Linked DNA regions of Homo sapiens: region 1 is linked to region 2. The links come from fine-mapping of genetic effects on plasma protein levels. Region 2 holds a variant in brackets. A gene starts in the other region. All regions are shown on their reverse strands.

Region 1 (12,357 bases), not on the chromosome of region 2:
GGCTCAATGCTCCGCTGAGAACCCAGGAGCAGCAACGCACCCAGGCCCTTTGACCTTTGTTGGATATACAGGCCCATGGGCCCCAGCCCACCCCAATCCTATTCCAGGACTTGCCTAGCCCTTGAGCTGAAATTCCCGCCATACCCCTCCCTGGCTCTTGCCTGCCAAGCTGGGAGCATCTGCTGCCCTGGAAACCCCACCAGGCAAGAGCAAACGGGCCTGAGACTGAAGGGAATGTGGCCCTTTCCAATTAGGGGATTTCCAGACTCTTGCAACACCCACACCTAGGATGTCTACTCCAGGTGCCTGTCCTAGAGAGGTAGTGGGCCTGCTGAGGTAGGTGTGAATAAGCACACTTCCTCTCCCCCTCCCAGGATCTCAGTCTGGTGAATTCATCATCACGGGTAGGGCTGAAATCAGCCATGTGTACCTCCTTTATCCTTCACCCCAGGTACCAGTGAAGCACTCCTCTGCACCTAGGCCATCCCAGAGGTTGTCACAAAGTAGCCAGTTTCTCTCAGGAGCTCACCAAGCCAACATCTTCACCCAGAGGACTGGAACTGTAGGTGGAGACCCACATCTCGGATGTGCAGCCATCTGAGTCTTTGTGTCCCCTTCCCCAAGCTCTGCATCCAGCCTGGTCTGAGGACTGAGAGGAGCTTGGGTCAAAGCTGCAGGCTCCAAATCCCCAAACCCAGCTTACAGTTCAAGTGGGGCTGTGGGGTACAATAAACCCAGGCCAGCAGCTGAGGGCAGAGGAATGGCTCAGAAGACTTGGGGTCCCAGAAAAGGGTAATGGCTCTCTCATCATCCGAGCTCCTCACTCTCTTCTACCCTGCTTCAGTGCCTCCCTCTCACCACCCCTGCCACCAGGTCCACTCACAGACTGGAGACGGGGTAGGGACTCGCTATCCCATCCTCACTCTCAGGGCAGCTGTTTTCTGCGCTGGATTTTGTCCAGCCAGGTTTCCACCTCCAGAAAAGCCCCTACTGCTTCCTTCATTTCCCTTAGGGCTCCTAACCTTGATTCTAAGCTCCAGCACCAAGCAGACAGACCTCAATATCTCCAGGATGTAACATCTCCCTGAGACTGCTCTACCACTGCAGGCTCAAGTTCACAGGCAGGGGCTTAGGGTTGATGCCTAATCAACCTAGATTCCTGCATCTAGGAAGACCAGGCAGAGATGGGACCTAGGGGGTTGTGCACACCATCTGACACAACAAGAAGCTTCTTTCATGGCATGAATAAGGGTAAGGGAGACAGGCAGGTATCTTGGAGAGAAAGCAAGCCTAAGCTTTTAGGAAAGAAAAAGGTACAGCCCCCTCCTCTTCCCTGCCATCTCTCCTTTTTTTCTACAATCTGTGCCAGGCGAGAAAGTCTCCTCCTCCAGGGGAGGTAGAGGGGGCATCACTCCAGCTTTCCTTTCCCCAGACCAACTTTGTTCCCTTTCACCGGCTCTGTGTCAATCTAGAGTGTGGGATGGGGAGCAGAATAGGCCCAAGTGGCTCTCCCAGCCCCACCCCACCAAATGCTTAGAATTACCTGCAGAACTTGGTAAAAATACACATTTGTTGGCTCTATTCTGAGATTCTATTTAAGGCGGTCTGGCGTGTTGCTTCTAATTCTGTTTTTAAAAAGTCACCCAGGTGATTCTGAAGTGCAGCCAAGTTTGGAAGCAAACTAATATAATATGACTTCGGAATTATCTGCATGCCCCCTCCCAAGCCCATGCTATTCTATCTGTCTGAGAATTCCTCAGAGACAGGCTGCTCACTACTTTCTTAGTCACTCCCATTAGGCAGGTGGGGAAACCAGGGAGCTGGGAATTTAAAACTTTCTGGTTCCAGGATCTGCCTCTAGACCAGGTAAAAGATCCAAGAAATCTTATCTCCTTGTTTTTGCCTAGTCTTGTTCCAGGAACACCAGCTTCTTGCCAACAGAGTCACTCCCTGCCCTGCTTAAGGTCTCAGCCTTAAGGTCTCTTGAGTCTGAAAACCTCAGACTCAAGAGCTCAATTATTTCTCCTCTAGGCCACCAAATTCCAGCCCCTCTACTCTGTGGACCTTAGAATGAAACACCACCTCTTTATCCCCCTCCCAACAGTACCTCCATCTTCAACCCCATGCCTTCTGCATCCCATCCTTCCCCAAGAGCAACCCAATATTTCTGTCTCTGGCCATGGCTGTCCTGACTACATCTCTCCTGACACTCATTTCCTCCTCTTCCTATGGTTTCCCTATCCTGTCATAAGCCATCCTTCAAAAAACAAGATGTAAGGAGCTTGCTGCTGAGTTTAGCACTCTGGAAACCAGATGGATTCTCCAGCTCTGACGTGAGGATTACAACTCTAAGGTCCCAATCCAGTATTAAATATAGATTCTAAGTTATGACCCAATAACCCTCACACATCATATACCATAATAAACTCCAAATGGATAAAAGATTTTAAAATGTTAAAAATTAAACTACAGAAAAACATCATACAAAATGGCAGAGTAAGAAGTTATAGGGGTTGGTCCCTCCACCAAAGCAACTATTGAGGTGGAAAGAGCAATTGGAATCGACTCTTTCAGAAGTCTGGAGCCCGATTGGACACTTATAACAAGCAGGGGGGGTGGTACTTGATGAAGGGAGAGGTTGCTGGTCTTTCAGAAGAGAGCATAATGCATGCACTAGCTACCAACCAACACAGTGGGGATAGCAGCCCACATTCCTGAAGTAGCTGGGTGGTCACTGAGTGGGCAGGGGGAACCCTGTCCTCCAAAAATGAGGGGTTTTGCATTTGGGTTTGTCTTCTGGTTCCCTAAGGGACAGGCTTGCTTTGTTTCAGCCCTCTTGGGCTTCAGGATCTTCCTGAGCCACATATATCAGAAGATTTAAAGGGACAGAATCTTTTTGCGGGGAAGGAAGAGAACCCTTTGTCAGGTCATAAACAGAAATTTCAGTAACCCCACAAAACAAAGAATACACACTTTGCAAAAAACCGTTTGAAAAAGTCACCACAAATTGATGGCAGAGTTCTCAACAAGTGTATATCAGCAATCCCTAAGGAGTGAAAAAATTGAATTTCTAGAGATACCACACTGTAATATTCAGAATGCCCAGTTATCAACAAAAAATTACTAATACAAAGAAATAGGAAAGTATGGCCCATTCACAGGAAGAAAGGAATTTGACAGAGACTATCCCTGAGGAAGCCCAGATATTGGACATAGTAGATGAAGACTTTAACTGTCTTACTGTAAATGCTCAATAAATATTGATGATGGGAGGTTTGATGATAAGGGTGAGAAGCTGAAATCTCAAATACTGCTTTGTTGCTTGTTTTATTATGACCTCAAATTAAATTGGGAAACAATGGCCCTTTTGGAAAAAAAAAATAACTGTCTTAAATATGCTCAAAGAGCTGAAGGAAACCATGGGCAAAGAGTTAAGGGAAATCTGAAAAATGGTGTATGAACAAAATGAAACTATCAATAAAGAGATGGAAATTAGTAAAAAGAAAAAAAGGACTCAAGCAGAAATTCTGGAAGCAAAAATACAATAACTGAAATGTACAATTCACTAGGGGCAATCAACAACTAATTTAAGCAGAAAAAAAAGGATCAGTATTCTTGATGATAAGACAATTAAAATTATCAAGTATGAGAAGAAAAATAAACGAGCCTCAGGGATACCATCAAATGTACCTCATCACAGGAGTCTCAGGAGGAGAAGAGAGGGAACAGGGCATTAAAAAAATTGAAGAAATAATGACAAAACATCTGAAATCTGATGAAAAGCATGAATATACATACCCAAGAAGTTCACAAACTCTAAGAAGGATAAACTCAGAGATCCACACCAAGACAAATTATAGTCAAATTGTTGAAACCCAAAGATTTTAAAAGCAGCAAGAGAGAAGTAACTCATTATGTACAAGAGATTCTCAATAAGATTACCAGCTGATTTCAGAAACCATGGGAGGCCAAAAGACAATGGGGGATATATTTAAAGACTGAAGAAAAAAAAAAGTCAAACAAGAATTCTATATATCCAGCAAAACTATGCTGCAAGAATTAAGGAGAAATAAGACATTTCCAGATAAACAAAACTTAGGAAGTTCATTAATAGTAGACCTGCCCACAAGAAAAGCTAACGGGAGAAAGAAAAAACAAACAAACAAACAAACAAATGCTAAAGGAAGACCTTCAGAATGAAACAAAAGGACAAAAAATAATAACTCACAGCCACACAAAGAAACAAAGATCTCTGATAAACATAACAACATAGCAGGCTGGGCGCAGTGGCTCATGTCTGTAATCCCAGCACTTTGGGAGGCCAAGGTGAGCGGATCATTTGAGGTCAGGAGTTTGAGACCAACCAGGCCAACATGGTGAAACCCCATCTCTACAAAAAATAGAAAAATTAGCTGGATGTGGTGACAGGTGCCCATAATCCCAGTTACTCGGGAGGCTGAGGCAGGAGAATGGCTTGAACCCGGAGGGTGGAGGTTGCAGTGAGCCAAGATCACGCCACTGCACTCCAGCCTGGGCGAAAGAGTGAGACTCTGTCTCAAAAAAAAAAAAAAAAAAGTAACAACATTGCCAGGTATGCTGGTTCACACTTGTAATCCCATTACTTTGGGAGGCCAAGGCGGGTGAATTGCTTGAGGTCAGGCGTTCGAGACTAGCCTGGGCAACATAGTGAGACCTCGTGTCTACAAAAAATACAAAAATTAGCCAGGCATGGTGGCCCCACTACTCAGGAGACTGAGGTGGAAGGATCACTTGAGCCCAGGAGGTCGAGGCTGCTGTGAGCTGAGATTGTGCCACCGCACTCCAGCCTGGGTGACAAAGCGAGACCCTGTGTCAAAAAAAAAAAAAAAGATAAAAGCTAGTATTGTATTTTTAGTTTGTAGCCCCACTTTTTTCTATATAATTTAAAAGGAAAATGCATTAAACAATAATTATAAATCTATGTCAATGGGAACACAATGTATAAAGATGTAATCTGTGACAATAACAATATAAAGAAGGGACTAAAATGTATACGAGCAAAATGTTTATATACCATTGAAACTAAGTTGGTATTATTCAAACTAGGTTGTTATCAGTTTAGAATGTTAATTATAATCACCAAGGTATCCATTAGGAAAATAACTACAAAATATATAGAAAAGGAAAGCAAAGGGGAATCAAAATGGTTATGCTACAGACCAGGTGCAGTCGCTCATACCTATAATTCCAGCACTTTGGGTGGCCAAGGCAGGAGGATCGCTTGAGCCCAGGAGTTCAAGACCAGACTGGGCAACATAGCAAGACCTCATCTCTAGAAAAAATAAAAATGAAAAATGAAAACAGTAGCCGGACGTAGTGGCATGTGCCTGTGGTCCCAGCTCCTCAAGAGGCTGAGGCAGGCAGATCATTTGAGCCCAGGAGCTCAAGACTAGCCTGGGCTAGACATCGTGAAACCTCGTCTCTACAAAAAAAAAATAGAAAAATCAGCCAGGCGCAGTGGTGCTTGCCTGTAGTCCCAGCTCCTGGGGAGGTTGAGGTAGGAGGATCACTCGAGCCCAGGAGGCGGAGATTTCAGTGAGCCAAGATCAACCACTGCACTCCAGCCTGGGTGACAGAGTTAGACCCTGTCTCAAAAAAAAAAAAAAAAAAAAGAACTCTTACAATTTAATAATCAGATTTGCTGGAAGGAGGGGAAGGGTATGGATCCTGGAGCGTAGTGAGGAGACAGTCATGGTGTTCCAGGGGAGAGGCAGTGAGGCCTGCATGAAAGCAGTAGCTGGGAATAGAAGGAAGGCTCAGGCCCAGACATATTCAACTAATGAGGACATAAAATTTGGCAGCTGAGGACTGTCCACTTAGTTTGAGATAAGTGGGGCTGGGTGCCAGCAAATCCAGCTTTCAGGAAGGAAAAGGAGTGGGGATAAGTTAAGGGAAGTGAAAGTGTCTAGCTACATAAATAGCAGGCCAATCCCAGCCCACGCACAGACCCCCAACTTGCAGCTGCCCACCTCACCCTCAGCTCTGGCCTCTTACTCACCCTCTACCACAGACATGGCTCAGTCACTGGCTCTGAGCCTCCTTATCCTGGTTCTGGCCTTTGGCATCCCCAGGACCCAAGGTACCAAGGCAGGGAGGGGCCTTGCATGGGGCTAAGGGGATCAAGAGGCCTGGATAGGAGCTTGCCAGCAGCCCCTGGCTCCCTGTGAATCCCACCCTGCAGGCAGTGATGGAGGGGCTCAGGACTGTTGCCTCAAGTACAGCCAAAGGAAGATTCCCGCCAAGGTTGTCCGCAGCTACCGGAAGCAGGAACCAAGCTTAGGCTGCTCCATCCCAGCTATCCTGTGAGTGGACACAAAGGGGTGGGTACTGGCTGGTGACGGGGTGGGGAGGGCATGGTGGGCAAGACTAAGAAGGCTTACTAGCCCCCACCCGCAGGTTCTTGCCCCGCAAGCGCTCTCAGGCAGAGCTATGTGCAGACCCAAAGGAGCTCTGGGTGCAGCAGCTGATGCAGCATCTGGACAAGACACCATCCCCACAGAAACCAGCCCAGGGCTGCAGGAAGGACAGGGGGGCCTCCAAGACTGGCAAGAAAGGAAAGGGCTCCAAAGGCTGCAAGAGGTGAGGAATCTGAGGGATGTGGGTAAAGGGGAGCCTCAGTCAGCCCCTCACACCCCTCTTCTGCCCTCACAGGACTGAGCGGTCACAGACCCCTAAAGGGCCATAGCCCAGTGAGCAGCCTGGAGCCCTGGAGACCCCACCAGCCTCACCAGCGCTTGAAGCCTGAACCCAAGATGCAAGAAGGAGGCTATGCTCAGGGGCCCTGGAGCAGCCACCCCATGCTGGCCTTGCCACACTCTTTCTCCTGCTTTAACCACCCCATCTGCATTCCCAGCTCTACCCTGCATGGCTGAGCTGCCCACAGCAGGCCAGGTCCAGAGAGACCGAGGAGGGAGAGTCTCCCAGGGAGCATGAGAGGAGGCAGCAGGACTGTCCCCTTGAAGGAGAATCATCAGGACCCTGGACCTGATACGGCTCCCCAGTACACCCCACCTCTTCCTTGTAAATATGATTTATACCTAACTGAATAAAAAGCTGTTCTGTCTTCCCACCCAAGTACCTGTTCCCATGTGTTTATGTCCACCGAGATGCCAAGGTTCCTACAGGGTGGGGTCACACACTCTGAGCCGAAAGCTCAGGCTGAAAAATGCTATGTTCTCATCTACCCCAAGAGTTTCCTTGCCTCTCAGGTGCCTGCACCCCTGAGCAGTTAAAGGGAGGCTGAAGGACAGGGTAGGACCCAGTCTTCTGAGGCATCCTGCCAATGGAGAGGTGGTGGACATGGAGCACACACCCCCAACAGCTCTGCAGACCTCTGAGACCCTGATTCTGTCCTGCACTAACTCCAGGGGTGACCTTCGGATCTTTTCCATGACCTTCAGACCTTTCCCCAGATATCCCAGAGGCTTCCTCTCTTTTCCCTGGGAACTATTCAATGAGACCCTCCAAGTGGTTCTTTGGAAGGGTCCCTAGGAGGGAAGCTGTGGCTTGGGCCCATCTATAACACAGACAAACACAAGTTATATTGAAACCTGCCCTAGCACAGTTCCAGCCCTGAGAGAGCCCCTGGGAGGCAAAGACCCGAGGGGACTTGCTTCAGCCCTATTCAGTGAAGCTCGGGCCTTGACCTCTCCTCTTTGTTTAATGGGGCTGTTGTGCTCTCCTTCTATTCCTATCTGGGCCCCTGGACTCACTCAGCCTCCTTCCAGATGGAAAAACCTCCTCCCTTTTTTTTTCCTCCTTTCTTTCCTGGCTGGGATCCAGACTACTTTAGCCCATTTAACCCTTTGAAGTCAAGGAATAAGTCTCCTGGGGCAGGTTTTCAGAACCCCAGGATTCAGGTGTGAATCAGTCTCCTCTCCTGGAAGGCCTCAGATGGCTCTCCTCTACCTCTTCCTCCCCAGAGTGAAGACCCTTCTATTCCCCAAATCACCTCCAGGCGGGGAGAGTAGAAGCCATCAGATTGGGCCAGACAATGTGAGAAAGAAGGGAACAGATCCTGGGGAAGGGCAAGAAAGGTAGGAACCTCAAGGCCGGGCGCGGTGGCTCAGGCCTGTAATCCCAGCACTTTGGGAGGCCAAGGCAGGCGGATCATGAGGTCAGGAGTTCCTGACCAGCCTGGCCAACATGGTGAAACCCCGTCTCTACTAAAAATACAAAAATTAGCCGGGCATTGTGGCGGGCGCCTGTAATCCCAGCTACTCGGGAGGCTGAGGAAGGAGAATCACTTGAACCCAGGAGGCGGAGGTTGCAGTGAGGTGAGATCGATTGTGCCATTGCACTCCAGTCTGGGCGACAAGAGCAAGACTCCATTTCAGGAAAAGAAAAAAAAAGGAGGAGAAGAAGAAGAAGAAAGGTAGGAACCTCAGAAGCTAGAAGTGGCTGCTCCATCAACTTTTCCTTCTGTAGGAGCCTGAGTATGCCACAGCACTTACCACCTATCCTAACATCCTCAAGTATTGGCTTGTCTGCTCCTCTTGCAGCAGGTGAAGACAGGGCCTCTCCCCTGCCTGTCCTAGGGCAGCAGGTGTGAAATTAATCTATAAACTCAGATATGCAAGAAATACTACTTTTGAAATGTTCCTTAAATGAACTTAATTCCTACTCCAAGCTACTGCACTAGAGTGCTGATGAGAAATTCAACATCAGGCACTCTTGTGGGATCCCACCTGCCAAGGGTTATGCAAAGGTCACAGAAACCTCAAGGCCCAAGGGAGGCCTCCTACCTGCCTCCTACACCATCCTATCATTGGACATCAGTCTCGCCAGTGAGTGTTCTGACCCCTGTGGTTCCAGCAGGTATATCTCTTCAAGTCCTAGACTCCACATTTGAGACATAAGAATTCAGATATGACAGCCTCTGGGCTTGGACTTGACCTCCCCAGATACCCCCGAAGCCATCTACTCAACAGTCCTGTCACTTGCCCCATCACAGACAGAAATTAGAGCCCAGTGCCCACTCTGGCTGGATGTACACACTAATCCCTTCGCAGTCCTAAACAATTGTCTCCCTCTCCTCAGCCCCTCCAGGGCATAACCTCTTCCCCAAGTTTACAAGTTTACTTTTTTTTTTTTTTAAGGCTTGCTTTGTAGTCCAGGCTGGAGTGCAAAGGTAGGATCATAGCTCACTGTAACCTCAAACTCCTGGGCTCAAGGGATCCTCCTGCCTCAGGCTCCAAGTTGCTGGGATTACAGGTGTGAGCCTCTATGCCCGGCATTTTCCCCTGGTGTAAGACATTTACAAAAGGCCTTTGACGTCAGGCTCCCTTTGACATCAGGACATCACTCCCAGCCCTGCCAAAACTCTTGCCTACTCTATAGTGAAAAGAAAAACATAGGCAGAAAAAACAAAACTCTCTATTTCACTAAATTCTCCTGCCACACCTGCATGCCTGGTATTTGCCTCAAGCCCTGCTCTGAGTAAGCATGCAATATATTATTTATTCCATCAGATCATGACTGGCCACTCTCCTTGTCTGCCTTCATCTTTGACAACATTGTCCTGTTCTTTCTCTTTTCTCTCTTATTCTCTTGATGCATAATTCAAAAAATATCACATAATACACACTCACAGTTAAAAAATATATCCAAAAGTACCAAAAGGTTTATTCTGAATAACATAATTTCCTACAACTTTAACTCCTATGCTATTTCTTAGTGCCATATGTCTAAGTACTTTGCCTATACCTCTGTTTCTTGATTTACCTATTTTAAACATTACCAGATGACTTCCTACTATAAAAAGTGAAGATCTAACTCTCTTGCCAACTCTCCTCTCCTGTCACTGCATCCTCTAAATATAGTCATACCATAATATTTAGATCATGATTATATTACCATATTTAGATCATAATTACAGTTTATATTATTGTGGATTACTATTACATAATATGTATTATCACATATTACATTATTTTGACTATATAAATGTTCTCTGCAGACAAAAGTAGTGCACTTTTCCTTCGTCACTCATCTTTTTGTTTTTCTTAAAGGTTCTAATGCCCTTCCCTTTTTAAAATACCTCTATCTTGACATTGCCTTTCAAATTCTTCATCATATGAGATGGATTCAAAACATAATGTTTAAGATATACGTAGAAGAAAATATAGGTGAATGTGGTTATAACTTCGAGGTATAAAATAACTTTTTTTTAAAATAAAATGGAGACCAGGTCTCACTATATTGCCCAAGCTGGTCTTGAACTCCTGGGCTCAAGCGCTCCACCCGCCTCAGCCTCCCAAAGTGCTGGGATTACAGCCATGAGCCACTCTGCTTGGCCAAAAAGAGTTTCTTAAACAAGTCATAAAACCATAAAACGTAAATCATTAAAGATCAACACCATTAAATTTAAAAACAAATCGGAGTTCAGGGTAGGGATGGAAAATTAATTACATGCCTTTATTTTCACTTCTCACTGAGCCCCGACTAAAACTACAGTAAATTTTTTTGGTGCATGTATGCGTGTAAAGGCATAAAGCAAGGCCAGGCGCAGTGGCTTACGCCTGTAATCCCAACACTTTGGGAGGCCAAGACGCTCACTTCAGCTCAGGAGTTTGAGACCAACCTGGGCAACACAATGAGACCTCGTCTGTACAAAAAATAAAAAAAAGTAGCTGGTGTAGTGGCATGTGCCTATGGTCCCAGCTACTCAGGAGGCTGAGGTGGGAGGATCACTTGAGCCTGGGAGCCATATAGCCTGGGCTAAAAAGTGAGAGACCCTGTCTCAAAGTAAATAAATTAATTTTAAAAATAAAATAAAGGCATAAACCCCCAAGAGCCCAAATGGGAGAGGAGATAAAGGTAACTTTCCAAAAGCCTACTGCTGAGACACGTAAATATTTCAATAAAAATAGATACAAAGCATAAAATCAAATTATAAATATGAAGGATTTCTAATGTCTTATTCGTGAATACAGTAAAAATTCATATTTACTGAATATTCATATGCCAGTATCCAACAGGGAAACAATGACTTCTACTAGAGATGTAAAAAAAAAAAAATCCTAAAGATGAATTATCTCTAAAATCTACAAAATCTTCATTCCTTAAGCATGAAAACTCATTTTAATCCCTGGAATCCTGACTTTTCTTTATCACAGAACCACAGAAGCAATTTATTGCTTTAAAAGTGAGTTATCACTATGTTCTAACAATGAGTCCTCCTCAGTGTCATCCAGAAAATTACTAATACCATGTATTTTTGTTGTTTTTATTTGCTCCTTTTTTGAGATAGGGTCTTGCTCTGTCACCCAGGCTGAAGTGAGTGGCGCAATCTCAGCTCACTGCAACCTCAACCTCCTGGGCTCAAGCAATCCTCCCACCTCAGCCTCCTGAGTAGGTAGGACTACAGGCACACACCACCACACCCAGCTAATTTTGTTCATTTTTTGTAGAGACGAGGTCTCACTATGTTGCCCAGGCTGGTCTTAAAACTCCTGAGCTCAAGGGATCCTCCCACCTTGGCCTCCCAAAGTGCTGGGATTACAGGTGTGAGCCACTGTGCCTGGCCATACCATGTTTTTAAATAATTTCACCACTATCTCTTCCACAAAATGATAACATACACACACACACACACACACTAATGAAATCATGGGCTGACTCCCACTTGTCAGTGTTGCCTCAGAATCTCCTCCTGCTTCTCCCGGTTCACTCCTTCCTTGTCAATATTTTAAGGGCTTCTTTGATACAGATATAGAGGATAGGTGGGACTAGTAAAGAATTAGAGCTAGCTGGGCATGGCAGCTCACGCCTATAATCCCAGCACTTTGGGAGGCTGAGGTGGGCAGATGGCTTGAAGCCAGGAGTTTGAGACCAGCCTGGGCAACGAAGCAAGACCCCTGTCTCTACAAAAAAAAAAGAAAGAATTAGCCAGGCACGGTGGCACAGGCCTATTGTCCTAGCGACTTGGAGGCTGAGGTGGGAGGATCACTTGATTGCCTAGGAGTTCGAGGCTGCAGTGAGCTATGATCACACCATAGCTGATCATAGTGGAGCAATACCCCACCTTTAAAAAACAAAAAATTAGAGCTAATAGATCTCAGGCCAGGAACCGTGGCTCATGCCTATAATCCCAGCACTTTGGGAGGCTGAGGTGGGAGGATCTCTTGAACTCAGGAGTTCGAGGCTGCAGTGAAAAACAAACAAGCCTCAGTTAGTCCTATAAACCTGAAACCAATTCCAAAGTAAGCAGTCGGCCAGGTGCGGTGGCACACACCTGTAATCTCAGCTCTTTGGGAGGCAGAGGTAGGAGAACGGCTTAAGCCCAAGAGTTTGAGATCAGACTGAACAACATGGCAA
Region 2 (12,357 bases):
GTTCTTACTTCCTTTGTTTGTTCAACAAATATATATATATAATTTTTTTTTTAGACCGAGTCTCGCTCTGTCACCAGGCTGGGAGTGCAGTGGCACGATCTTGGCTCACTGCAACTTCTGCCTCCTGGGTTCAAGTGATTCTCCTGCCTCAGACTCCTGAGTAGCTGGGGCTATAGGCGCCTGCCACCATGGCCAGCTAATTTTTGTATTTTTAGTAGAGACGGGGTTTCACCATGTTGGCCAGGATGGTCTCGATCTCTTGACCTGGTGATCCACTCGCCTCGGCCTCCCAAAGTGCTGGGATTACAGGCATGAGCCACCACGCCCGGCCTGTTCCACAAATATTTACGAACCACCTACTATGTTCTGGATGACGGCTGGATGCAGGTCTCAGTCCTTATGTACACAGGATGGTATCAGCGGGTGACAGAATGCCCTGGAAGATGACACTATCGCAGAGCCTGGGGAGGGGCTGATTTAGATGGGTGGGCGGGAAAGTGACATTTGAGCAGAGACCTGATGGAGGAGCCTCAGTTTCCCCATCTGCTGCCTCCTTAGGGCTTCCAGGGCTGCTTATGGTAGGAATAGGTTGGCTCTGGCCAAGAGACTGCGTTTCTCCCAAACCCTTTAGGGTAAGACCCCTTGGATAGGGGCCTCCCATCTCACCCTCTGGTCCTCGGAGGGGCTGCCACCTGGTGGGGAAGAGGGTGGGGCCATGGAGGTAAGGGGTGAGGAAAGGGGCAGGGAGGAAGGGACTCATCCTGACAGTGGTCAGCAGCGCCCTCCCTTCCTTCCTGTGTTCCCAGAAGGGGCGTCCTGTCCCGAACCCGCAGCTGGCCAGGCGGACCTGACCCCAGCTGGAGGGCTGTGCTGCGTGGGCTTCCTGCAGGGTGTAGCTCGGACCCCCTGGATGGCTGGTTGCCCTTGGCAAAATGGGCCAGAGTTTCCCTCACAGCCTTAGGGAATGGCCTTGGCGGGCCCCTCTAAGCCCCTGACCCGGGTGCCCTTGGAGGTAGGTGACGGCCCAGGCGTGTAGTGGAGGGTGGTGGGGTGACAGCGGTCAATGCATGGGCCCTGAGGCCCCCCCGAATGCCGGCCAGCATCATTTCCTGCTCCACTTTCTCTCTTCTGCATAGGAGTTCTCTGGTTCTCTGTAGATGAGTCCCTTCATCGACAGCAATTTTCTGCTGGACTAATCTGGTGAACAAATTGCCAACAGTGATGACATGAGGCCCTGTCAGGGGTGCTGGTGGCTCCATGGCAACACCACTAGGTCACACATTTACATTTTAATTGGGGCCTTCAGTGCCCTACGGCAAACGAGTGACTAATGCTGGAATTTTAGGCACCGGGGAACATGGGGAGTAAGGCGCCTTGAAGTACAGCACATATTTAAAAAGTCATCCCTTACAGGTGAATAGGGCTTTGGCATTTACTAACATAAAACTCATCTCATCTCATCGGCATTCGTTGACTTAATTCCATAATAGCTCTACTGGAGAGGCAGTTCTGTTTTTTTTTTTTTTGGAGCAGGATCTTACTCTGATGCCCAGGCTGGAATACAGTGGCACCATCACAACTCACTGCAGTCTCTCTCCTTTTTTTTTTTTTGAGATGGAGTCTCACTCCTGGCGCCCAGGCTGGAATGCAGTGGCTCGATTTCGGCTCACTGCAACCTCCACCTCCCAGGTTCAAGCAGTTCTCCTGCCTCAGCTTCCCAAGTAGCTGGGATTACAGGCATGTGCCAACACGCCCAGCTAATTTTGTATCTTTAGTAGAGATGAGGTTTCACCATGTTGGCCAGGCTGGTCTCAAACTTCCGACCTCAAGTGATTTGCCCACTTCGCCCCCCTAAAGTGCTGAGATTACGGGCATGAGCCACCACACCCAGCCACAACTCACTGCAGTCTTGATCTTCCAGGCTCAAGCAATCCTTCTGCCTTAGCCTCCCCAGTAGCTGAGATCACAGGCGGGTATCACACAGCTATTTTTTTTTTTTAATTTGTAGAGATGGGGTCTCACTATGTTGCCCAGGCCGGGCAGTTCTTATTTTAGACTTTCATTCATGTATTCATTCAGCATCTGGCTCTGTGCCAGGTACTGAACCCCAGGGTGGAAACACAAGATCCCTTCTACAGAGACACTATGTGGTTACTGTAATACATAAGATAACTATTGAATAGGAGGCAGCAAGGAGGAAATGGAGGCCCAGAGAAGTGGTGGGTGCTCTCGCAAAGAACATACCTCCCTACCCAAGCCTCCTCACTCCTGGTCTATACTAGCATTGCCCAAAGTACTTCCTCTGTACTAGCATTGCCCAAAGTGAGTTGTGTTGCTCTCCATTCACAAGGCAGTGCACCAGCATTCAAAGAAGAAAACCTGACTTTGCATCAGAAAAGTTTGGGAAAGAGTGGGTTAAACAAAATGAAAAAGAAGTGTTTGTTGCAGGACTTATCAGAGCCTTAAGGGCAGTCAGGTGGGGACAGAGTATGCAGCATGTCTGTGGATTCTTTGCCAGCAGCTCTTTCAGGACCACATTCCATGGACACTGGGAAAAGCTGACCCAACCACCTCCTTTAACATCTTTTTTCTTTTTTTCTTTTTTTTTTGAGACAGAATCTCACTCTGTCTCCCAGGCTGGAGGGCAGTGGTGCTATCTCCGCTCACTGCAGCCTCCACCTCCCAGATTCAAGTGATTCTCTTGCCTCAGCCTCACGAGTAGCTGGGACTACAGGCATGCACCATCATGCCAGGCTAATTTTTGTATTTTTTATTAAAGTAGAGATGGCGTTTCACCATGTTGGCCAGGCTGGTCTCGAACTCCTGGCCTCAAGTGATCTGCCCGCCTTGGCCTCCAAAAGTGCTGGGATTACAGGTGTGAGCCACTGCGCCAGGCCTCCTTTAACATCTTCAGCAGCTTTCTCACAGGCCGCCACCTGCCTAGCAGGCGCTGGCTAGATTGTGACTGCAGACCTTTCTCCTCCATCCCCCCAGGTTTCCCCTGTGACTTGGGGTTCTGGAACAGAAGGGGAGTTGACCAGGCACTGCTCCTCCTGCCCTAAATTGCAGCTTCATCCCACACCTGCCAAGCAAGGGGTTGGAGATAAACTCAGGGTGCACCTTCAGAGGGGTCCCTGCAGAGGCCTCACCTACCCCTGGCCTCCCAGAGCAATCTTCCTAAAACACAAAGCGGCTGACATAGCTCCTGCTTAAACCAACCGTGGCTCCCTAGTACCTTCAGGACCAAGTTTGAACCTCAGCCTCATTTTCCCCTGGCTTCCTGCTTTCTGCTCCAGCAAAACTGAACTGATTTTGTCCCTGGGACATGCTATGCTCATTCCAGCTTTCCTGGGAAGTCCTTCCCATCCCAGGCATTCCCTCTCACTGGTTTTATTCTTCCTTAGATGTGACTCAACTCAGGTCTCTTTCTTGGGAAAATCCCCCAGGCACTCCCAGGCTGGCCTCTCCCCGACAGTCTAGGAAGTGATCCTGTGAGTGTCCGCCTCTCCAGCAGGACTATAGACTTCCGTTCTTCCCCGCCAGGCCTCAGAGCCACGCTGGCGCTCACAAACATATACCGACTCCTATGTGTCAAGGCTGTTCTGGACACATGGGTTTCCAGGGGGACACCATAAACCCACAAATTGACTGTGTGACCTTGGGCAAGTTCCTAGAGCTCTCTGTGCCTGTCTTCCTCCTCTGAGGAGCAGGCTTACTGTGAGTTGAGAGAGGTTCGGCACAGAACAATGTCTGGCCTGTATGAAACAATGCACGTATTGTGCTACGATGACAATGGTGGTGTTGGCACAAGACTCTTGGGGCACCTGAGGATCCCTGTGTCACTGACTGGCTGGCTTTGGGCAAGAGCCTTTGTCCACCTGAGCCTCAGCATCCTCAACGGCAGAATAAGGTTGTTGAACGGCTGATCCCCGGGTAGGTTCAATGATGTCCCCTCCCCAGCCTCCAAGATACACCTACCTCCTGGAACCCGTGAATGTGACCTTATTTGGAAAAAGGGTCTTTGTAGATGTAACTAAGTTAAGGATCTCTAGATGAGATCATCCTGGAATATCTATGTAGGTCCTCAACCCACAGAAGTGTCCTTATAAGACAATGACAAGTGTCCTTACAAGAGAAAGGGAGAGAGGCTCGAGGCACGCAGGGGAGAAGGCCAGGTGAGGACAGAGACAGAGGCTGGGGTGAGGCAGCCATAAGCTCCGGGGCACCTGGAGCCACCCTCCAGAAACCACCTAGAAGAAGCAGGCAAGGATTCTTCCCTACAGCCTTGAAATGGGTGTGGCCCTGCTGGCACCTTGATTTCAGACTTCTGGCCTCCAGAACTGTGAGTGAATAAATGTCTGTTATTTCAAGCCACCCAGTTTGTGGTAATTTATTATGGCAACCACAGGAAACTAATACAACCCCTAAAGGGCTCTGCCAGCTCCAACAAGAACTGATTCAGAGATTCTCACAAATATCAGAAACGTTTCCCGTGGCCAGCCTCAGGGCTCCCGAAACCTAGAAATCGGGCTCTGGAAGGAGAACCCTTATTCCTTCTCTGGGATATTGATCCTGGGACACCAGCCCTCCCTTCTTCATCATTCTGTAATGACCCACCAGTACTCTTGGCAGTTAGCTGGAGGAATCTTTTGGGATGTTTCCTCATGCCTCTTCCACTTAGCTCAGGCTGTTCCCTATGAGGAAATGCTGTTCCCTGCTGCCTCCATCTGTTACTTGATTACGCAGCCTCCAGATCAGCCCGGACACTTCCTTCTCAGCAAAACCTCCTTTTGCCCCCTCTCCAGCTGCCTGGTAAAGTTAACTCTTGGCCCTTTGTCCTAAGGGCTATGTCTTTATCCATTTTTCTTTTCTTTTTGAGATAGAGTCTTACTCTGTCACCCAGGCTGGAGTGCAGTGGTACAATGATCATAGCTCACTATAATCTCAAACTCCTGGGCTCAAGCAATCCTCCCATCTCAGCTTCCCCAGCAATCGGGACTACAGGCATGTGCCACATGCCTGGCTAATTATTTTAGAGACAGGGTCTCGCTCTGTTGCCCAGGCTGGTCTCAAACTCCTAGTCTCAAGCGATCCTCTTGCCTTGGCCTTCCAAGGGCTGGGGGTTATAGGCATGAGCCACTGTGCCTGGCCCATCTTTCTATTATCAGAGTCTAATTCAATCCTGACCTGAGGGCAGTCACTCAACCCACGCATGTTCACGGGAAGGTGGGCTCCCATCGAAAAGCCCCAGTTTCCAGGTTAAAAGGGCAAGCCCAGCTTTGCTCTGGTCACTCAGTGGATGGCATGGGAGCCCCTGATAGTGAAGCTGAGAACTCTGGCTTCAGCCACTTGCAAGGGACTCCACCTCTCTGAGCCTCAGTTCCTCAATCAGTAAAAAAAGGAAAGGAATGCATGGTAAACCTCAAAGCGATGAGAAAATGCTTGTGAGTCTTTTCAGAGCTCCGGCCTTGTGACAGTGGCTCTCCTGAGGCTGTGGCCACTGCTGTCAGGCTGGGACCAGACCTGGGGTGTCTCCATTCAGGGCTCTGTCATCCAAACACCGCAGGGTCTGACCGGGTGTGCTCATGTCCCTGGTCTGTAACCCTTTCTGGGGTAATGAGTTCCATAAGTTTATCTTTGCTGGGTACTGTAAATTCCTGTTTACCAAGGGACCCACAGAAATAAACAGAATACTCGGATGACCAGAATTTTCCATCTCAGCATGTTCGAGGATAGCCCGAGTCACAGCTCTCACCGGCAACCTTGCAGAGCCCTGAGGGCATCCTGTAAAGCTGGGATGCGCCTCACCATTAGGTGGGGTCAGTTACAGAATCGCAGATCACGGCAGCCAGGAGGACCTCAGAGAAACCTTGGGAGTTTCTAACCAGGCTCTGAGGATCTCTGTGGGGCTGGCAGGTGACTCAGAGCCACTTTGGGAAGGGTTTTTTTTTTATTGTTCTTTGGGACAGAGAATTGCTCTGTCACCCAGGCTGGAGTGCAGTGCCACAATCTCAGCAAACTCTGCCTCCTGGGCTCAGACAATCCTCCCACCTGAGCCTCCGGAGTAGCTGGGACTATAGACACACACACTGCACTCTGCTAATTTTTGTATTTACTTTTTGTATAGATGGAGTCTCACCATGCTACCCATGGCTGGTCTCGAACTCTTGGACTCAAGTGATCCACCTGCCTTGGCCTCCCAAAGTGCTGGGATTACAGGCATGAGCCACCACTCCTGGCCTTGGGATGGGGTTTTACATATGGGATATTACATGAGATTTTCCTTTAAGAAGTAGGGACTTCTTCTGCTAAAACCAAAATAAAAACACCCGGAAAGCTTGGAAACTGCCAACATAGTTCAAATCTTCATCGCTCTACGAAAGAAACCCCACAAAGACAGCCCCACAAAGGGCGGTGGGCTTCCTGCCAGCCCATGCTATGGCTCCCACTTAATCAGAATATTCAGTTAACAGGAACGCCCTCCGCCTGACCATTTCCCCGTGGGACTTCCCTTGTTTCCCCTAAAGCGTCCTCCTTCTGGCTTTGAAGACAGAGACCAGGTCGGGTATCTGGGGTTTCATGAACGAGGCTGTGGTCACCCTCATTATCCAGGTCATTTCCTCCTACAGGGGAGGCTCCTGCCCACACGTCCTGCCCCTCGTCCTTCC[G/A]GTGGACACTGTGGGCCTCTCTCTGGGTTAGAGACCTGTGCACGGAGGAGCCGGACAGCGGGCTGCTTCCCAGGGGTGCATTCAGGGGACTCGAGGGCTGCAGAGTCAGGCAGCCCCAGCTGACCAGGGCTGGTTCACGGATACCCCTGAGCCGATGTGTCTGCCTCAGTCCTCAGTCCCTTAGTACATGTGTGGTGAATCCCTACTATGTGGGGATCCAGAGTTGAACAAGAGCCAACTGGCCCTCCAAGAGCCCAGCGTCCAGTGGGAAGACGGACATGGAGACCCTAGACACGGTGCTATTTAGGGGAGCACAGAGGTGCTGGAATATAATAAAAGATGGGGTGTGAATGGGATGGGTGGGGGAAGGATGAAGGGAGGGCCTGCAGCGGGTGGGAGGGACGCCATCCGGGATGTAAGGAGTTGGAATAAACACAGCCGAGGAGTGGGAGAGGTTATGTAAGAAGAGGTACCAACCCAGGCAGTTACAACATTAAAGGGCATGATGTGTCCAAGACTCTTAGCAGCATGCAGTCCACACGGGCTCAAAAAATGACAGTGACTCTTGTGGTTCCTCGTGTAGAATGACAGAATCCTAGGATCTCAGGGGGTCTTAAAGGTCATCTAAGCCAGAACTTCTTAACTGGGGGCAATTCTGCCCCAGGGCACACTTGACAATGTCTGGAAACATTTTTGGCTGTCACAGTTGGGGATGCTGCTGGCAACTGGCTGTAGACAGCAGGGATGCGGCTGAATATCCTACAATGCCAAGGGCAGCCCCCACCTCCAAGAGTGTGGATCATGCTGAGGTTGAGAAGCCCGGTGCTAGGGTAACCTCCCTCATAGAATCTGCTCCCCTCTGCACTACCTCTTCTGCCACCTGGTTGTCAGGCCTGCACTTGAATGCCCCCAGTGATGGGGAGCTCACCACCCTGCAGGCAACATGTTCTATCTGTAACTGGCTCAGTGTATTCAGAATGCTCTTTTCCATAACGAACTGAATCCCTTCTCCATGTTCCTATAACCTCCTAGGGCATTTGTCCTTGTTCTACCCTTGGGACCACCCGGAACTAGCCTAATTCAGCTTCTACCTAAAAGGCTTTCAAATATTTGATGGTGTGTTTGTGAATCTTTCCTGCTCCAGCCTGAACACCCTCCATGTGACCCAGGAAGTTTGGCTTGGGGTGTCGGGGTGGTCTCTACCTGTGTGAAAAGCACAAGGACCCCAATTACCCCAGCTTGGCAGCCAACGGGGCCAGAGGAAAGCAAAGAGGTGGGTGGTGATGTCCAGGCCCCAGGAGCCCAACATCCCCATGGTTCTCCTGCCTGCTCCGTGATGCTGCTTCTCCAAGCCTCAGTTTTATCTCCTGTCAAATGGGTATAAGGACACCCACCTGGCCTTTTGCACTCGGCACTGTGAGGCTCAGAGGAGGTAAGTAATGAGAAGATGCTTCAGAAAGGTGAAAACACTGCACGAAGAGGTTGATATCCTCACCATCCAAGAAATGGATACCATCACCATACAAGAGGTTAATATCATCATGCCCACGATCCTCCCATCCCTTAGGTCTGCATGGCCAGGTGTTTTCATGCACATTGCTTTGTCTTCCTCCAGTGCACACTCTGTGCTCCCCGACGGCAGAGGGAGAGCAGCACTGGCGGTCCCCATTTTACAGACAAGCAAACTGAGGCTCAGAGACTGCAAATCACACATGGTGGGGCCAAAAGGCTGAACTCTCCAAAAAGCCAAAAGGAGACCCCATGACTCCAAATTCAGGACTCATTAGTGCCAGGGCCACGGTGACTTGGGGAGACCAAGAGAGTATCAGGGCCGAGGAGACAGGAAGCTGGTGGCACCACTGGGGACCGTCATCAGGGCCCGCTCCTCCTCCACACACTTCTTGTGCCCCCTCAAAGCTGCCTGCGGTTGGGTTCCACAAGCCTGACTGGTGGCATGGCCGTGGGCCGTGGCCGGTGTGGCCTGCGCCTGGGGCACCTGCTTCTCTCTCACACCTACCCTCCTCTCTCGCTTCCTCTCGCGGCTTGGGTTTCCTTCCTCCCTTCAAAGCTCACAAGTTCTCTTCTCTAGAGGCCACTTTCTTTTTTTTTCTTGGAATCTGCCCAGGGAGAGACACCTGTGTTTCTGTTTCGATTCCTCCCCAGGCACTTCTGTTTCCTGGGGAGGCCTGAGGGTAGCGGGGACGTGGCCCCTGGGCAGCAGGTCCGGCTCTGTGGCCACGAAGGCCATAGAAGCCTCGGTCCCTCTGTCTCCAGGCCCTGACACCCGACGACATCCCCTCCTCCTGATTCCCCGTCTGCCCTCCCTTTGCCCTCATCACTCCAACCTGAGCCCCAGAGACTCTCAGCCTCAGAGATGGAAGGGCTTTTGTTAGAACCCAGGCCCAGAGAGGGGCAAGGGCTTGCTTGAAGAAACACAGGGGGTAGAGGTAGATGTCGGGGGACTGTCCTTCCCAGGACACCAGGCAGGATTCTCCTCCCTGTCACACCCCAACCTCCACCCAGAACATTCCCTGAGTAGGCTTCCACCCTTTTCACCTGTGACATCTTCTTCTGCCTCTTGCTTTCTTGCCTGACTCATTTTTCAGGACTCAGCCCAATGGCACCTGCTCTAGGAAGCCTTCCTGGATTGCCTCTCCCTTCACCCAAGCTCCCTAGGCTGAGAGGTGTCCCCCTCTCTTCCCATAGCACTGTACTAACATGGCCTCTTGTGGAAAACTTATTTTCACTCCTGAGCTCAGACACCTGTCCTCAGCCAGCCCCGCTCACCAGGTCGTCTCCCTGTGCCCCGCCTGTGCCTGCTGTATTATGACAGGAATCGTTTACTTCTCTATCCTCCCCGACCTGTGAGTTTCTCAAAGCCTGCACCTTCACACTTTTCTTTTTTCAACAGCTTTATTGAGAGAGAATTCACACACTGTAAAATTCACCCATTTAAAGTGCAGAATTCAGTGGTTTTTAGTGTATTCACTGATATTTGCAACCACAGTCAATTTTAGAACATTCTTACCACTGCAAAAAGAGAGCTTGGGCCAGGTGCTCACGCCTGTACTCCCAACACTTTGGGAGGCTAAGGAAGAGGATGGCTTTAGCCCAGGAGTTCAAGACCAGCCTGGGCAACATAGCAAGACCCCCATCTCTACAAAAAGAAAAAAAAAAACAAACTAGCCTGGCATGGTGGTGTGTTCCTGTGACTCCAGCTACTCAGGAGGCTGAGGTGGGAGGATGTCTTAAGGCTAGGAGGTGGAGGCTGCAGTGAGCTATGATTGCACCACTGCACTCAGCCTGGGTGACAGAATAAGGCCCTGGAAGGAAGAAAAAAAGAGAGAGAGAGAGAGAGACAGACAGACAGACAGAGAGAGAGAGAGAAAGGAAGGAAGGAAGAAAGGAAGGAAGGAAGGGAGGGAGGAAGGAGAGAGAGAGAGAAAGAAGAAGAAAGAAAGAAAAAGAAAGAAAGAAAAAGAAAGAAAGGAGAGAGAGAGGGAAAGAGAGAAAGAAAGAGGAAGGAAGGAAAGAAAGAAAGAGAGAGGGTGGAAAGAAAGAGAGAGAGGGAAAGAAAGAGAGGAAGGAAGGATGGAAGGAAGAAAGAAAGAAGAAAGAGAGAGAGGGAAAGAGAGAAAGAAAGAAAAGGAGAGAGAAAGAAAGAAAAGGAGAGAGAAAGAAAGAAGAGAGAGAGGGAAAGAAAGAGAGAGAGGAAGGAAGGAAGAAAGAAGAAAGAAAGAAAAAGAAAGAAAGAAAGAAAGAACCTATACCCTTTGGCTATCACCCCCCATGCTCACCCCCAACCACGAGAAACCACTGATCTTTGTTTCTATGAATTTTCCTATCCTAGATATTTCATACACGGAATATCTATATGGAATTACCACATGTAGCCTGTAGGGACTGGCTTCTTTCACCCGCATAGTGTTTGCAAAGTTCATGCATGTTGTAGCATGGGTGGGACTTCATTCCATTTTATGGCTGAATAACATTCCACTGTATGGATATTCTACATTTTGTTTTTCCATGTGGGTAGTTTCCACATTTTGCCTGTTATGAATAATGCTGCTATGAACATTCATGTTCCTGTCTTTGTGTGTGCCTGCGTTTTCCTTTCTCTCAGGTGCATATGGAGGAGTGAGATTGCTGGGTCACGTGACAACTCTGTCTAATTACTTGAGGAACTAACAGGCTGTTCCGCAGTGGCTGTGCCATTCCGCATTCCCACCAGCAGTGGACAGAGGTTCTGGTTTCTCCACATCCTGGCTATCTCTCGCATTATGTGACTTTATTATTTCTTTTATTTATTTATTTATTTTTTAGAGAAGGGGGTCTTGCTACATTGCCCAGGCTGGTCTTGAACTCCTGGCCTCAAGACATCCTCCTACCTCAGCCTCTCAAAGTGCTGGGATTACAGGCATATACTACCATGCCTGGCCTTATGTGATTTTTTGATTCTAGCCACACCTAGTAGGTACAAAGTGGTGAGTCTTTTTATTTATTTATTTTTTTGAGACGGAGTCTCTCTCTGTCACCCATGCTGGAGTGCAATGGTGCTATCTCGGCTCACTGCAACCTCTGCCTCCCAGGTTCAAGTGATTCTCCTGCCTCAGTCTCCCGAGTAGCTGGGATTACGGAGGTGTGCCACCACACCTGGCTAATTTTTGTATTTTTAGTAGAGACAAGATTTCACCATTTTGGCCAGGCTGGTCTTGAACTCCTGACCTCAGGTGATCCGCCCTCCTCAGCCTCCCAAAGTGCTGGGATTACAGGTGTGAGCCACTGTGCCTGGCCTAGAAGTGGTGAGTCTTAATTCTTTTATTTGCAGGGGGTGAGGCCTGGCTATGGAACTGTCAAGGCAGACCTGGGGCTGGAAGCCCAGCTCTTCAGTGCTGGGGGACTTTGGGCAAGGTCCTTTCCTCTCTGCGGGTCTTGCCACTCTCTTCTGTGGAGTGCGACTCCGGTAGATGGATATGAAATGTGAAGTACTCAGCATGTTGCTGGCCTGCAGCACGTGATCATCCACGTGAACCCCAGTAACAGTGACAATGGTCGTGCCGAGAGCCTCGCATGGGCTCTGGCGCCCAGCCGGCCCTCCTGGGTGTAGGTGGAGAGAACAGTGGCTGGTGTGCCCCGGGGAGGATGCCAACCGAGGGCCTGGGCTGGACGGGAAGGTACCCGGGGAGGCACTCCCAGCCTCCTGTTCAGGGGCCCCTTGGCCAAAGTCCCTCAGAGGCCAGCTCCTGTTAAGCCTGGGGAGCAGTTTTCTTTATACGGCTGTTCTGAGACTCAGCACATATGAGCTTTCTCCTGATGGTTCAAATTAGAAAGCAGCTGATGCATTCTAGAAAACCCAGGGAAAAACATTATTGTTGGAGGCCAGTCTTCTTGTTGGCAGAGCTGACTGCCCTGGCCTGGCATTCCAGAGAACAAAAACCTTCACTGGCAGAATCAGAGCCTTCCCGTCGGGGGCTCCCCTCCTCCCCTCCCTGTCTCCCTCTCACCCACCCGCCCTGGGCCTGACAAAGCACTGGCTGCCGTATGGGAGCCGGGACAAGATTCCTCTGGCTGTCCAGGCTCGTCCACCCCGGCAGCATGTTGGTGAACTGAAGTCTGACTCAACTCTTGGCCTGGCAAGGGCCTGGCTGTCTGGCGCAGGGCAAAGGTGGTGCCCTCTGGAGAAAGGAGG

Direction of the effects. Alleles are on the strand shown, and positions count from the first base shown. The strength of an association depends on the size of the effect and on how common the allele is.
As copies of G replace A in region 2, the plasma level of the protein whose gene starts at base 5,982 in region 1 goes up (weak association).

What was found. A credible set is the group of variants that fine-mapping cannot tell apart. PIP is the chance, under the fine-mapping model, that this variant and not a neighbour inherited with it causes the effect. Protein levels are from antibody-based Olink assays in UK Biobank. Linkage for the fine-mapping came from a reference panel and not from the study's own genotypes, which makes the PIPs less certain.
Region 1: CCL21 starts here. The variant in region 2 is the best candidate, but not a certain one, in a credible set for the plasma level of the CCL21 protein (UK Biobank, PIP 0.84).

Annotation. Positions count from the first base shown.
Region 1 is chr9:34,703,761-34,716,117 of GRCh38, reverse strand. CCL21 (C-C motif chemokine ligand 21) reads left to right here and starts at 5,982. Exons shown (of 4, transcript NM_002989.4): 1 at 5,982-6,118; 2 at 6,221-6,341; 3 at 6,436-6,618; 4 at 6,691-7,113. The coding sequence starts at 6,052. The coding sequence ends at 6,724. It also overlaps a transcript of PHF24 not described here.
Region 2 is chr22:30,217,753-30,230,109 of GRCh38, reverse strand. No RefSeq gene overlaps it. Among named protein-coding and RNA genes, the nearest start is that of LIF-AS1, 15 kb to the left of the region's middle. RefSeq lists enhancers at 389-1,324, 2,616-3,412, 6,227-6,726, 6,727-7,228, 8,209-8,839. The variant G/A (reference allele first, on the strand shown) is at 6,669.